2 separate regions of the Homo sapiens genome follow, and region 1 is linked to region 2. The links come from fine-mapping of genetic effects on gene expression. Tissue or cell type: whole blood. Region 2 holds a variant in brackets; the other region holds the start of a gene. All regions are shown on one strand. Distances are from middle to middle.

Region 1 (2,687 bases), 130 kb after region 2:
CTGCAGCCCTTGTGCACAGCCCACGGCCCCTGAAGAAAAAGCGTTTTCTCTTTGGATAAAAATAGGCCACCAAACCCAAAACCACAACTGATGAAAGAGTTATAGTATCAGTAATTTTACAAATCAAATGGAGCTGATGGAGTTATCATTTTAGAATTGGTATTTCCTGCTGTTTAACAAATACTTTTTTCTCAGTTGCATGGCAGTGGTCTAAAGTAAGAAGGAAAATGGACTTGAGATTAAAAACAAAAACTTACCCAAAAGGTGATAAAGAAATCCTGCAATAGAATGCATTGATTTCAGTGACCCAGCACCCTTTTAAGTTTGCCTGAAGAAAATACTACTTTAAAAGTTGGTAACAGAGACCTTTAACGGTGGGTGAGGAGTCACATACAAAGTGTCACGGCCAGATAAAATCACCGGATGCAGAGGAATTGCCATCGACATCTCCTGCCACTGAGTCCAGCTCTACCGTGGGGACAAGAAATACCTCCCTAACTCTGAGACAACCGCGGCCCACACCCACACCATGTCTCAACAACAGACTTAGGAACTTGTAGATCTTTGGACAACTGCAGGTCAGTCCCAAGACAGAGAAAAACACCAAACAGGCTAGTTTGGCTAGCAAGATTCAAACCTGTAGCAATTTCCTCTCTATTAAAAGCAATTCATTAAACTACTAGCAGGAGAAAAAAGTAAAACAATAGATTTACTAGGAGTGAAAGAGAATAAAAAGAAATTTATATATTTAACTACAGCTTTATTTCTTTGGAAGTGCTCCAATTTGCAAAAAAAAAAAAAAAAAATCAGGGTTTCTGACAAGTAATCTACGGGTATCTAAAACGTGCATGGTTTTACTTTTGTGAAGCAGGGAACATTTTTAAAAACATAGTCTTGCTTTCAGACTATTCTGACGAGGTTAGGAAGTATTTTTGAAAATTGTTAAACAATTAAATGGGAATATAGAAAGACGTGAAAAGAGAAAGAGAAAACTCACTTGTATCCTGAATCTCCCTACCGACTTACTCTTTAATTCCACAGAAATTTTTTTAAAGCAGGAAAAGGAAAATGGACTGAAAAGTTTTAGGCAGAAACTGACACACACCTCACTTACTACTTTGCCGGAGAGCAGATCCTGAGTGAGCTTCCCTCAAAGTCTGTGGTCTCTTTCCAACTACCTGCGGGAATCCTCTGCTCCGTAGCTTAAGAGGATGCAAAGACCATAATGTTTCTAATAGAGCTGCCTCCTTAAATTGGGGGGTGTGGTCAAGCCAGGGAAAGCTGGAAAAAAGGCAGTCTTCCTCTTGCCCCTGGCACCAGGACAGCAGCCACTGGCACAGGCACAGCAGTCTAGGTGGAAAGCACTGTTGATTGACAGTGGTGGCACCAAATCACACATTATTTCGTATTCTTCAAATTGTGCTTCAGCTGAATATAACTCAGCCTTGGAGAGTAACAGGGAGGGAGATGAGCAAAAGGGAACTAGTTCAGTGGGATAACACTGTATCTCACCTCATCATTTGCTGATGCATTTACTCTCTGCTGAATATGTAAATATTCATGCTTCATGTTCCTTGACTTTCTCAATGGAGCCCCCATTAACCTAGGCAAGGTCTCAGGTGAGGGAAAGGGATTGCTTTAGAAACACAGGACGTCCACCACCCAGTCACCTGCTCAGGCTTCCCGTTTCTCTCTAATAACTTGATATGAAATGTGATATTTTCTAAAGAAAAGAAAATAATTTTGTGGAAGAGAGCTGACTGGATATGGACTTGGGATTTCTGAAAAGTAAAGCTAAAAATCCCCTTTTCATATAAGTCTGGTTTTAGGCAATCTCTAAAATAAGGATACTTTTAGCAGCCCTGACTCATGGTCCGTGGTGCAGGAATAAAAGGGCAGAAGTGTTCATACATTTCTCATTTAGGGAAAATGTAAACAATATGAAAATCTTACATCTGTCCTAAGTGAAAATACACAGCATCTTTTATTCACATATTCAGGACTATGGTAAGAATGTTACAGCATAATCTCATTTCTATGAATGGAGTTATTACAATTTTTTTTGAGAAGTCAGTATTTGGCTGCTTAATCTAAGACTTTTATCCTAAAAGATTCCATCTTCTTTGAGTAGGAGGTGGGAGTTAAGATTTGTCATAGTTGGCTTCTTTCTCTTTTTAATAAAGATACAAACTTAGAAAATCCTTGAAAATCTAATAACTGTCATTTGGAGCCATATCATCATCAGCCTTCATTGTATAAAGCTGGCAATGCAGTTAAGATGACATTGTAAGTAAAGCAAGATTTTACTGCTCATCTTCTGCCTTTGCACATTAACTTGGAAGTAAGGAAGAGGTAATGCTATTGGTTCACTTTAGTTTAATAAATTGCCTGTGCCAGGCACTGTTCTAGGCACTAGAAAGATAGCAAGTTTGCATTGTAGTGAGGAGACAGACACATAAATCAACGATCTCCCCCCAAAAATGTAATACATGCTACAAAAGAAGTCTATGAAGAGAGCTAGGGAAGCTTCAGCCTGCCCCTGTAACCCAGTCAATTTCAGCACACTGCCCCATTTAAAGAGCCCACGGTCAATTATACCAATCATAACTAATTACAACTGTATTCACTATGTTTGCAGGATAATTGAAAAAAACAAAGTTGAGAAGACTTGGATTCTTGCTCTATAA
Region 2 (2,687 bases):
GATAACTGCAACTTGGCACTGAAGAAAAGCTCTCTGGTTGAATCCTTGACTGAAGCAGAAACCTATTCTCTGTGTGCTGTTTATTCGGGAGAAGAGTTCAAATGTGGCCTCAGGTTGGCTCAGGAGTTGTGGCTTTTCCCAGGTTTGCAGCTGAAAACTAAAAACAAAATATAAGGACCTGAAGCCATTTTTCCCAAAGTCTCCCAGTGAGTGGTGGTGGCTTGACCAGGATTGAGGGGCTGAAGCCTTCTTCGCGGCCAGTCCTGCTCCCTGACCACCAGACCACACAGTCCGTGCTTAACATGTACTCAGCAAACCTCAAGCTCCAGGCCTGAAGAAACAGATTTTCCAAAAACAGAGCTCTCTTTGTGAACAATTCAGCAAAAATTCTCTTTCCAGCTGTGAGCTGGGATTCATGTTGCAAATGTTGGTGTTAATTAAAAACATCCACCTTCTACAGTTTCAGCAACAAGGAAAAAGCACCATGCATGAGGTGTTCCTAAGCACTCCCCTCCAAAGCACTTATAAACATGATTTTATTTATGGCATGTGTTGCTAGGGGTTCTGACAGATATTATTATTCCCAATCTTCAGCCCCAGTGAAAGAGTTGGGGCCAAGGAGATGGATGTGAAGGGCCCAAATTGCCATAGAGCAAAATTAGTATCAGTGGTGGACACAAGAATACTGTTCATTTCCCACAGGATCCACTAAAGATGTTCAACTTTCTGTATTCATATCAGGAACGGTACGTAGCTGAAATCAAATGTTTATCTGTTGAGTCATTAAACGTTTCCTTCACATGGCTCTTAGTCCTTCGGACATGAAGAAGTGAGGTCTGACAAGGCCAGGGACATTCCACAAAGGATGACACAATATATTCAAAGATTGGGATGTTCGATGACTTCCCTATATTCCTGTTATATTTCTCACCTTATTAGGAAATCTTTATCTCCAATGGTCCTGAGCTAGTGAGATCAGAAAGACTAAACTGCATCCCTCTGTGCTTGCCTCTGGTTGGTTGATTTGTCCTGCTTTAATACATGATCCAGACAAGAAAGAATCAAGCCAAAGCCACAGCATTATGAATGAAATTCTTTGTTTTTAATTTCACACAGTTTAAAATACAATATGAAATCAGGCTACAGTATATAAAAAACTCTCCAGCAAAATGATGTGCCAGCATCAGCTACTAAAATAAACAAACAAAAAACTCCGCCATAAGAATTTTTTTGCATTTTTTTTTAAAAAAACATCGACACTTACATCGCTACATCTCTAAGCTACCTCAGTTCTGATTTTTAAAAAGCACCTGCTTTTCCTTTTTTTCATCTT[G/A]CTTCTAAATTTTCAGCTTTTAAAAAATATAAATTATATGAAAATACAAGTTGGAAAATAGTCAAACACAATATAACATCTTTTTCATCCCTATACTTCTCAGCTTAAAAAAAAAGTATTCTTAAAAAAAAAAGTTCAATAACTGAGGCAGTATTCCTGATAATTTTATTTTAATATATATATTTTATATATGTATATGTATACATATATTTATGGTTCCTTGAAACTTCTTTGGAATGTAGGTAAGAGTTCAACAAATTTATATAGACCCCAACAGAGTAAGCGGCATGCACAGCATGACTAGAAGAGAGATGGTGTATTTCTCACCATGAAGGTTAGGCAGGTTAATGCTGTAAAACCCAGAGTGTTCATCTCCAAAGTGAGGAAAAGCACATCTGATCTTTGAATGCTACCTCCAATCCCCACAGCCACAAAAATCAGGGCTCTATGTAGGGGAAGTCCCTCTCCAGAATGGAGAAGGGAACAAAAGTGACTCTGAACCCTAAAGCCAAAACCAACAAAGGTTAAGGCATCTCTGGGAAAATAAGGGTTTCACCCAGCTAGACCAGATTTGCCCATCCTTCCTCTGAAGTTAACGTGTGTTTTTAAAAAGCATAAACGCAACATTTCCAGTGTATAAACCACCCACCACTCTTCCTGGGATGGTCTCTGGCCTTTGGACAAAGGAGAAAAAACATCTGGCCAGATCGACAAAGCTGTCTTAACTAATACACTATCTACAAATCTTGAAAATGGTGGACTTAGAGAGAAAGGGAATTTTAGCAAACAAGCGGGCGGAGGAGCACTAGGAGGCACTTTCTTATATCTTATCTGCTATAGGAACTGCAGGAGTTATACTCACAGAAGGAGAGTTTCCGGCATAAATTTAATAGGAACGGTGGATGATTTGAGAAAGTGATTTTATGCCTGGTTGCAAACAGCAAGCAATAATTGATACCCGGCCCTGGTTCTACTCTTACCCATTATTGAAATGTGGAAAGACTTACCTAGAAATCTAAGGTATTATTTCAGCTGCAGTTTTGCATGTCTGCAAACACACACACACACACACACACACACACACACACACACACACACAACATTCACACACATGCACACATTCACACACACACCTTTTGCCAGTGCCCAACAAAAATCACATAATCTAAGAGAAAACAATGTAGTCCAAACAGTTCCACCCAACACTCCCTGAGCAGCTCCTAAAATATTTTGAGAGCTTCATTAAGGCACCTGCATCCAAAAGATCAAAATAATACAGCTGGGATAATTCTGCCTTTGCTTTCCATATGGATGCTCCAATTCATCAGTATGGGGACACTCATGAATCACAGAG

The links. PIP is the estimated chance that this variant, and not a neighbour inherited with it, causes the effect.
Region 1: ETS1 starts here. The variant in region 2 is fine-mapped to the expression of ETS1 in whole blood (TOPMed, PIP above 0.99).

The regions. Positions count from the first base shown.
Region 1 is chr11:128,586,383-128,589,069 of GRCh38, forward strand. ETS1 (ETS proto-oncogene 1, transcription factor) reads right to left here and starts at 1,176. Exons shown (of 10, transcript NM_001143820.2): 1 at 1,106-1,176. It overlaps LOC105369565 (a long non-coding RNA gene), which reads left to right. Exons shown (of 5, transcript XR_948163.3): 4 at 1-578; 5 at 2,639-2,687. RefSeq lists a silencer at 1,129-1,335.
Region 2 is chr11:128,457,685-128,460,371 of GRCh38, forward strand. It overlaps ETS1 (ETS proto-oncogene 1, transcription factor), which reads right to left. Exons shown (of 10, transcript NM_001143820.2): 10 at 1,081-2,687. Among named protein-coding and RNA genes, the nearest start is that of MIR6090, 63 kb to the right of the region's middle. The variant G/A (reference allele first, on the strand shown) is at 1,334.